Regions from separate parts of the Homo sapiens genome. Here region 2 is linked to region 1. The links come from fine-mapping of genetic effects on gene expression. A gene starts in region 1. The other region holds a variant in brackets. All regions are shown on one strand. Distances are from middle to middle.

Region 1 (5,382 bases):
ATGAGCACTGGGTCCCTGATTAGCACCATGCATGACAGTTTTGTATTGGCCTTACTTTCCTGCTATAGTTGGTACTAACTGTACCTGGACTATGATGTAAGTGGGGAAGGAAGAGAACAGGTGCACATGTGAGGAAAATGAAACACGTCACACTTCTTTCCCCTACAGGTGGATAACATCTAGTAGCCAGACTCTGCTCTTTTCTCTGAGGCAACAGGGAATGTGTTCCCCTCTAGGTGGTGGTTACCACTTACCGTATTTTGGATCTTGTCTACTGCATGGCTTCTATAATCTCCTGTAGAGTTATACTGCTTCAAAGCCTTCTCATAATTATTCTTAAAGCTGTTCTTAATCTATAGCAAAGAAACACAATGTCAGTAAGAAAATCCTCTAGAAAGTTTTTGGTTTCAGGTCAAATAAGTTCTCGAATCTGACCAATGGTCATATCTTTGACAGCAGCAACATGTATAGTAATTAACTTCCATGGTACAGTCCTGTCCTCTAAGGGGTATAGGTTAGCTGAGGGGACTACTAAGCAAAACATTAAAATATATGATGAGAACCACTACAAGTTCAAAGTGCTGTGGGAATATGTATTTATCTGAGTGGCAATGCAGTATTGCTGTATTCTGCACCCTGCTAATTTTTCTCCACTTTAAACTGAGTTCAAATTCGATGCCTATGGAATTTGTAAGCTACAAAACCTTACTTTGGGAGGCTGTGCTACCACTTTATGAGAACTCTCATTAATGAGCCTTTGCTACTCACCGAATGTTATTTGAACAACCCCAAGTTTACCTGTTTTCTAATTCAGTATTAAGCTTTTTTTTTTTGAGATGGAGTCTCGCTCTGCTGCCCAGGCTGCAGTGCAGTGGCGCGATCTCGGCTCACTGCAAGCTCCATCTCCCGGGTTCATGCCATTCTCCTGCCTCAGCCTCCCGAGCAGCTGGGACTACAGGCACCTACCACCACGCCCGGCTAATTTTTTGTTTTTTTTTGTATTTTTAGTAGAGACAGTTTCACCGTGTTAGCCAGGGTGGTCTCGATCCCCTGACCTCGTGATCCACCTGCCTCGGCCTCCCAAAGTGCTGGGATTACAGGCGTGAGCCAACGCGCCCGGCCCAATATTAAACTTCTGATGATTTGCATTAAGTATATCCAATCTTTTCAAAATGCAAGGCATAAGAAGGTTATCAATTTTGTGCTTTGAATATTTTCCTATCAGCAAAGTTATAAATTGTACTATCTCCGTTTTAATAGGTATTTATACACAGAAAAACGACAGGGAATATAAGTAAGTAATTTTCTTCTGGTGACTATCAGTCTTTACAATTTTCTAAATTTTCTTTTAAATTAGAAGTGGACCAGAATTTTTACAAGAAGGCCATTATTGTCAGCTACAGGTTTAAATACAGAGGTCTGACTCTTCTACTTTAATAAATCCATTTTTATCTCTCAGAGGATAAATGTAACATGCTAAGCTTCCCTAATTCAGGCTTACCTCATGTCTGAAAACAAATCCTACGATGGCAGCGACCAGTTCGACCAAAAAAACGAGAGTCAGAAACATTGCATACTGCAGGATAAGAAAGAAAGTCCAAGTCAGCATAAATAAGATATAGCACAACTGCAAAGGGAGTCAAAGAAAAAATAATGGTCGTCTTCTCAATTAGTTCATCATGTTTTCATTGAAAAGGGCAGGGAAAATAACAACATGTCTATTTTGAAAGTGGAAACTGGCAGCTGAACTGTTACTTGATAAGTTTCCATAAGGAACAGGAAAAATTGTAAAGGGCCATGGCCAGTTCCAACAAAGGAATTCTATAACATACAAAACTTTTCTAAAACCAAGAATCAATTCTAATGAAAACAAGGACTCACCAGTTTTAGCATCCATGCAGAAGCTCGGCAGGTAGCAAAACAACCAAAGGTGCCCAAAAGAATAATGACGGTACCAGTAGCAATGAGCACGAAGGGGACATTGGTGGCCTTCTCATTTAAAAGAGAAAAGTAATTCTCCAGGCTCACCTTGCCCCAAATGCCAACTGCAAGAAGGATAACGCCAGTGATCTATGTGGGAATTCAGAGAATACAAACAGTTACGCACTGTGTACAGCAGCATCTTCAAATCACAACGCATGAGGTATTTAAGGCACAATAGGTGTAATATGCTGGGATACGGCAGACAAGGGGGAAGAGTAGAAGGGGTTAGGGGGGGATCTGCACACAAGAGCAGGCTGTGGACCAGGTATCTTATCAAAATTCTTAAAATTCATCTTTTTGTGTGTAAACACAAGCCCATGGCATATTTGCCCTAGGGATCAAAACTTCCTTAACTATCTTACTCCAACCTTAGGAAGAAAACCTTGAAGGGGAAAAAAAAAACGTGATTTTATGAGTTCCAGAAACTTCCCCCGTCCTCTCCAGGTAGGGATGGGCACAGGGTACAAAGGACTGGTACACAAAAGCAAGCCCAAGGATAGACTGGCGGGAGTGGAGGCATACCATACTTACCTGCGAAACACTCCTCTCTTACGAAGCAGTGAAAAGAAAGACACTATTATGCAAGTGAGCCCTCAAAGGGGCCGGGCAAGCCTTGCTTGCCTTTGCAAAGGTCCAGGGTCACCGTCTGCGTGCTCTGGGGGCTTAAGGCCCCACCTCGCCTCCCGTATCGAACTCGAACGCTGGTACGTCTGGGTCCCAGCTCAGCCTCTCGGCTGCCTTCGTCCCGCACTCCGACCCCAGCGCCGGCGAGATGCCTGAGCTCTTTGTTCGGGGCCCAGTCACTGGTCGCCGGCGTCGGGGTCCCAGGCGCGATGGCCGCCCAAACCCCACACCGTTCCCGACCTGAGCTCCCGCCGCTCAGGGTCACACCCCCCACAACTAAAAGCCCGGGATCCCCTGCCGGCCCCAGGCGCCTTCGTCTCTCACCCAGAAAATAAAAGTGTAGATTAGCAGAACGCTCTTGAAACAAGTAATGACTGGTTTAGTCTGCAGTCTCCGAGACGGGGACGCCATGACTAGCCCGAGACCCTGCACCACCGCACCGGGCGATTGGAACACAGAGAGCGAGACGCGGAGTCCCCGAGTCTCCCCGGAAACTGCCGAAAACTTACGAGCGTCCACAACTGAGAAGGGCCGGAAACACTGTACAATTTTGTAGAGGGTAAAGTATGGGAGGCTGTCCGGAAAGTGGCAACAATTTCAGAGCGCCCCCTGCCGAAGGTTACCGAAAACTATATACAAAGGTTCTAGTGTCGGAAATTTCATAGGTCTTCAAGTGGAGCTTTCTTCATTGTTTTTTTTCTATCCTAAGGAATCTTTCCCGCCCCCCACCCCTCCCCTCTCCTTATAACTTCACCATATTGTTTCTATCACCAGCAGAGCCCGCAGCGCTCTGAGATTGGGCCTCCCTGGCCCCTGGTGCCCTAGAGAGAAGGAAAAGAATGAAGAGGTTAAAAGCGACCTAAGAAAATACATGGGAAAATACCCACAAGAAATATATTTGCAAAAAGAAAGCGGATTGCAAAGCAATACATACAGTCACGTGTGCTTAGACAAAAACTGAAAGGAACAGTGAAATTTACCTCTGGTGGAATTAGGCTGATTTTTTTCTCACTTGTGTGCTTTTCAATTTGTGAACATTGTTTTATGGGTTAGGAAGGGGAGATGTGAATGGAGGAAAATAATCACCACTTGTTGAAAGAATTTCTAAGCTAGGTATTAAAGATAATAATGACTTTAGAATTTACCTGCAGGACTTTGCAAAACCCCAGTATTCCTCTCCTTTTTTATCCCCTAAGTAATTGGAAAGTTGAGGGAAAGTATTTTTACATAATAGTGAAATGTAAGTTCAGCTATTCGCTGTAAACTTTTAAAAAGAGAGAGTGCAATGGAAAAATCCCTGGTGAGTGTGACCTCCTCTTAAATGTTAAAACAGAAAGGCACTGTACATTCCAGCCACCTGGTTTTTCCCATCAAAACCCAGCTGATTACAGAGAGATTAAAACCTAATGTTATATATTGTGAATATATTGGTCTATGTTGTTACAACACAGGAGGTGCGTTAAGGTCTGATTTCTCAACTAAAGCGTCAGCTCTTTGAAGGCAGAGACTGAGTGTTAAGTGAGTTTGTGTTATCTCTAGAGGAACGGGGTTAGAAGGCTGTATCAGTTCCCTATGCAATCCAACCCTTCATCATTGACACAAGCTTAATATCACAAGTGGCTATTTACTCTATTGCCATTGCAAAAAGACCTGCATTTGTGGAGGAGAGATGAATACTCAAACTTTTCTGCTTGAAACGTTGCTTTAAACATACACCTCAGGACCAGAACACAGGAAAGTTCCATTGACTTGGTCACACAGAGCTTCCCTGTGCTTCGAATATTGACCTAGGACCAGTTCCTATAACATCTTGCCAGACGTCTGAGGTGCAAGGCAGCAACTGTTGGAAAATTAATTATTGCATTGCCAGGCTTTATACTAAAATTTTTACTAAAATTTGAAAGGCCTAATACACAAATACATGGAGAGAATGGATAAACGATACATCTACATACACCTTCAAACACTTTGAGGTAAAGTCGTTAGGAAATACCAAATATTCAACATGGTGGAGGGGGGTGTCTAAGTATATGCAAAGATTTCTCCCTAGGCTAAATGACCCCAACTGAAGGGTTCTTATACTAAAAACAAGGATCAAGGGAAGTCTTGATAACTTCTTGTCATCTTAAAGAGAAGTTTCTCTGAAACTTAGATATGTACTGAAAGGGATTTACAGTGTGAGCCCAAGAGCAAAGAAATATGTCTGTAGCTGAAGAAAAAACAAAATAGCAAAGCAAAAGCCACATCTTATTTCCAAGAATGTGTTGACTTTCCTCCTCTCCCTTCCTCTACCACTCACAACGCTGCTTTGTTTGAATAACACTCGGTGCCAAATTAAACCAAATGCTGACATGGAAATTCATATTCCTATGGCTACAACACCTTGCACCATTGCCTCCTACTCTGCTACACCCACTTCCATCTCCCCACCCCCACAATGCCACCAAACCGAGAAATTCAATTTAGTTCAAACCTAGGCCTGGGTTTGGGTACAAACCCAGACCAAAGGGGCATCTAATCCCGTTTAAGGCAATTTAAGAAGTATTTCCCTAGGCCACTAGATAAATGTATTCTTTAAAGTATTAATAATGACTGTGATAATAAGTATTGACTGTATACCAACCACTATTGCTAAGAGCTTGATACACATTACCTCGTATGCACACATCACAAGAACCCTATTATGAGGTTGACACACCTAGCACCTTCATTTTACAGATGAAGAAACAGGTTGAAAGAGACCAAGTAAGCTGCCTAGGACTAAACCTGGGCAAC
Region 2 (5,382 bases), 41 kb after region 1:
TCCTCTCTGCTATACACTCCTTCCACACACAACTTTGGGTAGAAACGCTTATGAGAATAGAAAGGTCAGTTTGATCAATGAGTACCAGAAGATGAAACTTAGCTCACTAGACCCTTCTTTGAAAAGCCTCAACACACTACACCCATGTAATATGTAGGTCAAATTTAGGAAACAATAGCAAAAACAGGAACTGAAAGCTCATCAAGCAGGAAGTCAGAATAACAGGGAGACTCTGTCTACATTCCCTTAGAGCCCTTAACAGTCCCCAGCCTGGAGAAACACTGGGCCAATTGAGATAACACTTGGCTCTTCTGGTTGACACAGTGGGATGTAGACCATGCTCTGTTTGATAACACACCCCAGACGCAAACACTAAGACAGATGTGGTACATGAGGATGAATATATCTCATCTTTCATTCGAGAAATGAGGAGCTCTCTCTCCAATGACTGCAGTATCAGTTTAAAATGCAGAAAATTCAGCATGGGCTGTGAGACACTTTACCCTCAGTCACTCTGGTCCTCTGAGATCAGCTAGAAGCTCTCACTGGGCATCCTCGTGATTTAGTCAAAATACATTATCTAATTAAAGTGCTTTTCAAAAGCAGCTCCATTATAAGAGTCCCCCAAAGGTCTAGTAAAGATATCTAGAACTGGAAAAAGCTTGGGAATTCTGTTAGCATTTCAAAGAAAAGCATTAGACCAAAGCAAGGTGGAAACTGCTTAAAAACTAGAAAAGTTAAATTTAAAAGCCAAGTTCCAGAAGTTTATCCAGGTAGAAAATAAGTTAAAAGCATAAATTGGAGAGGAGAAAGAGGAAGGAACTACTCACCTCTCCCCAACATTCCTGTCTTTACTAACCAACCCTGCTTCCCAGAGCCTTAAAACCCAGACTGGTCCTAATGCGAAAGGTAGCCAGGGCTTCCTAGGGAAGTAGGAACAATGATAGCAAGACAGAAGATAAAAAGTTGTTTTAAAAGCTGTTTTTAAGTTAAGTGAACCTTATAAAGACATAAGAAAAAATGGACTCTGAAAATAAACTAGATTATACACAGAAACATTTTAAAGAAATGCTTATTCTTGAGACTGCTTTAAAAAGAAGAACAAGTCTGCATCACTCTAGCCAGCATAATGAGATTTGCAGAAAATACATGTTTGTACACATACACACACACACACACACACACACATACACACATACACACATACACATTAAATTATAAATCTTTGCTCTTGATTTCTTCACTTCCTCTGACCTGCCCTCGCCAGGGCTGGACCTGCAGAAGAGGACAGGGACTCATAAACCCAGCTTCTGCTTGGCCATTGAGGAACGGAGCTGCAGAGTCCCTTCTGCCCAAGACCCTGGGTACTGTCGCATCTTCTGCCACAGGCTCACTTCTTCCCCAGTCGAGTCCATCCAGTCCACCACTTCCCCATTACTGATCCCTGAGGAGAAACACCAGAAGAGGCTAAAGAGGGGCCCCACTCTCAGCCCACCAGGGAAGATGGGTTGTACAGCAAGATTAGCCACCCCATAACAGTTTCCTACGAAGATGGGCTAATGGCCACAGCAGTCTGGGAAGTGCTCCCTCACCTGTATTCCTGAGACTCTGTCAAGAGACTCTGGGTTGATGAAATCAGACTCCAAATGGCACACAGTCACTAGAGACTTCTTATTCTGAGGCTGTTACAGAGTTCTAGTGCCTGACAACTCATGCCAGAGCTATTGCCAACTGTACTTAAACATTTTTCTTTTATTATTATTATTAATTTGAGACGGAGCCTCGCTCTGTCGCCAGGCTGGAGTGCAGTGGCACAATCTTGGCTCACTGCAACTTCTGCTTCCTGGGTTCAAGCGATTCTCCCGCCTCAGCCTCCAGAGTACCTGGGACTACAGGCCTGCGCCACCACGCCCAGCTAATTTTTTTGTATTTTTAGTAGAGACGGGGTTTCACCATGTTGGCTAGGATGGTCTCGATCTCTTGACCTCGTGATCTGCCTGCCTCAGCCTCCCAAAGTGCTGGGATTACAGGTGTGAGCCACCGTGCCCGGCCAACTTTTTTCTTTTAAAGCTAAACACCTCTCCTCTAGCTGCAGACTCCAGGTCAGAAGTGAGGATCGTATGTGGCCCCATTCATATTCTCTTATATATTCATCCATTAATTCAGCAAACATTTATTGAGTGCCTACTGTGTGCCAGGTACTCTTCTAGGCTCTAGAGACACTAGTAAACAAAGCAGAAAAAGTCTCTGTCCTCAGGCAACTTTCATTTGAATAGGGAAGACAGAAAATATACAAGCAAACCAATAAGAGTATTTCAGACAGTGAGGTTAACATTATGATGTAAATAAACAGGGTGATGTATAGTGACTGACTCAGGAACTACTGTGCAGATGGAGTGGTCTGAGGACTCTCTGAGAAGGTGACATTTGAGCCAAGACCTGAAGGATAAGAAAGAACCAGACTTTCCATTCAGAGAAAACAATAATTGCAAAGGTTCTGAAGTGGGAATGAGCTTGGTATATTTGGAGAGCAGAAAGTCATTTTGGTTGAAGCATAGTGAGCAAGGGGAAGAGTGATACAAGACGGATCAGAAAGGAACAGAGGACCCAGGTTACACAGGGGCCTGTAGGCATGTTAAGAACTTTGGATTGTTTTCTAAGCACAACAGAAAGCCACTGAGGGGTTTTAACAGGGGACTGACATGAATTGGCTTACATGTGTAAAAACATCAGTCTATATGCTTCATGTTAAATATTCTGTGTGATTATTAATATATAAGTATATTAATA[G/T]ACAAGTGCAGAGACTAGGGAGAGGGCAAAGAAGAGGATCCGAGACTAAGCTCTGCCAAGCACCAACATTTAGAGTTTGGGTATAGAATGCAGCACCTACAAAGAAAACTGAGAAGGGGTGAGCAGTGACTTAAAAGGGAATCAGAATGCAGTGTCAATAGAAGTTCAGCGTTTCAAGCGAAAAGGAGTGATCTAGCATGTTAAATAGTGCTGAAAATTCTAGTGAGATGAGAACAACACTTTGGCAAGAGCAACTGCTCAGCAGAGTGGTGGGACAAAAGCCAGATCACAGTGAAGGAGAGCTGAAGGAGAGGTGAGAAGTGGAGACAATTCTTTCTAAGAAACTAGAAGGGGAACGTGTAGTCAAGGAAAGGTTTGTTTTTGTTTCATAAGATTGGAAATACCAGAGCATATCTGTATTCACCCCTGGTAGGTAGGGAGGATGAAACTGAGAGATGACGATTATAGAAGTGAGGTCATCGAGAAGGGTAGGGGGAGGTGGCCCAGAGCACTTGGAGAGAGCTTGGCTTTTGCTAGCAATGACCCTTCTTTCATTATTAACAGCATGGAAGATGGAATGTATAGGTACATACATATAGGTAGGTTTGTAGATTTTTTTGGTGGGAAGATTATGAAGTTCCTGGCAATCAGGGTCACATTTATCTGTGCACATATCAGTGCATGAGCTCAGCCTTCCCCTAGTCCTGGCACATAGTAGGCACTCAATAAGTATTGGCTGAATGTTAACTGAAAGGAAAGAAGACAACTGTCATCACAGAGGAGCTTTGTGTTGGGGGGCGGGAATGGTAATAGGAGTAAAATAGACAAGAAGCCTTCAAACAAGTGAGGATGGGGGAGGGGATCTCACCAGTGCCAACACCCAGCCTGACCCCTCCCAGGAAGTCATTGCTGGCCAGGGGCTCCCGGTCCCACACAGTCAGTTCCAGGCACATATGCTGTAGATCTTCCAGCCTCACACCATTGTAGACAAATGTATGGTTGTAGTGAGGATTCAGGGTCTTCTTCATCACAGGAGTTTTACGTTTACTGGCCTTGTTCCTCATGGGAAGGAGGTATCTGGCAGAGGGCGGGGAGTAATCAACAGCCTACTCAAAGCGGACAGTTATCTCTCTAAATTCCCCTTTCCCCTACCACAGGCCTAGCCCAAGAAGATGAACCCACATCCAGATCCTACTACACACGCCCCTCCTTGAATCTGCTGAAGCAGAGTTCCCACTACCTCTACTAGATCATTCACCTGATTCAATTCCTTTAACCTAGAGAGAAAATGAATATAATAGTATTAGTGAGGCTATTCTGTGCTCCACTGAAAATGGGTTTTAAATATTTGGCTTTGTTTCTACTAGACAATTTATCTCTTTAAATAAAACCAATAGTAATATCTATAAACTTAGCCAAACATGATTTCTAGATAAATTAAGTCAGTAGGTAATCTGTAATTTTCGGAAAGCTTAAAAACTGTGGGAAACAAAGCCCTGAGTTCCCAAATCTAGACAGTCAGAAGACACAGATTTTCACCCAGAATTAATTAAGAACATGAGTCAGACAAAAGTCAGAACCTGTCTGCAGCCCTCCTCTTTGGATTATCAAGTCTACAGCCCAGACCAGTGCAAAGGTGGTGAAGGTTTTGTCATTACCTAATTTCAGGAACAAATTTGGTTGCCGGGAGTGGTAAGACACACTGGATAATATCCACAGAGAAAGTTAAATTCTTCTCTTAGCTCTCTTGTTCTGAAACTGGTTAATTTGGGGCTGGTCTAGGGACTCACCCCTTGACAAAGCTGTCTGAAGTCCCTCCTGCTTTGGCAGCCGTCAAGTTCTTGGCTTCTTTGATCCACACCTGGAGCTCTCCCCCTTCCCCACCTTTACCTGTAAGGGATGTCAGCCATAGCAAGTGAGCCCCTTCCACCTCTAGATTTATCTTGAGCTTTGTTTATGCAGCACTTTCTTTGCTTGCTCCTAAAGGCAGCGAGCTCCATAACAGAACCGTGCCTGTCCTGTCTCCTCAGTGCCTAGCACAGTGCCTGCCAGTAAGCAATAGGTGCTGTATTAATAACAACCACAATATTAATAAATGCCTATTGAAAACTGGCTATGTGCCAGATACCATGTTAAGCATTTAATTCTCAAAACAACCCTAGGAGAGTCACACTATTTTTGTCCTCATTTTGTACATGAGAAAATTGAGGCTTAGAGACATAAAGTTGCCTGATATTTGTTCAATGATTTAAAAAAGAGGGAACTCCTCCATCTGAGTTCTCGATTCCACCCCTACTTCACAGGACTCTTCAGACATCATCAATTTCAATCCTCACCTCCCAATTTAAATATCTCTTTCTCCACTTGTCCCTTCCCCTCAGTCTAAATATATACTAATCTCATCTCTTTGAAAAAGTACTTCTAAAAGAAAAGCTCCCTTTAACCTTATCTCTTCTTCAAGCTATTCTCCATGTCTCTACTTTCTTTCACCATCAATTATCCTGAGGAAAAAAAGTCCACACTTACCACCTCTACTTCTTTGCCCATTCACTCAGCCTAGTTTCTAGTGAAATCTGGTTTCTGCTTTCACTG

Which allele goes with the higher level. Positions count from the first base shown, and alleles are read on the strand shown. Sizes are in standard deviations (SD) of each study's normalised expression.
In carriers of allele T in region 2, the expression in ovary of the gene that starts at base 3,130 in region 1 tends to be higher than with G alone (moderate effect, 0.42 SD a copy in GTEx).

The links. PIP is the estimated chance that this variant, and not a neighbour inherited with it, causes the effect.
Region 2: its variant is the best candidate, but not a certain one, in a credible set for the expression of TSPAN6 in ovary (GTEx, PIP 0.82).

The regions. Positions count from the first base shown.
Region 1 is chrX:100,633,677-100,639,058 of GRCh38, forward strand. TSPAN6 (tetraspanin 6) reads right to left here and starts at 3,130. Exons shown (of 8, transcript NM_003270.4): 1 at 2,932-3,130; 2 at 1,882-2,070; 3 at 1,502-1,576; 4 at 255-353. The coding sequence starts at 3,018. RefSeq lists enhancers at 2,094-2,709, 2,710-3,325.
Region 2 is chrX:100,674,733-100,680,114 of GRCh38, forward strand. SRPX2 (sushi repeat containing protein X-linked 2) reads left to right here. Exons shown (of 11, transcript NM_014467.3): 11 at 1-1,056. It overlaps SYTL4 (synaptotagmin like 4), which reads right to left. Exons shown (of 20, transcript NM_001370165.1): 18 at 4,581-4,680; 19 at 3,659-3,867; 20 at 1-1,444. The coding sequence ends at 1,296. Among named protein-coding and RNA genes, the nearest start is that of SRPX2, 33 kb to the left of the region's middle. The variant G/T (reference allele first, on the strand shown) is at 2,791.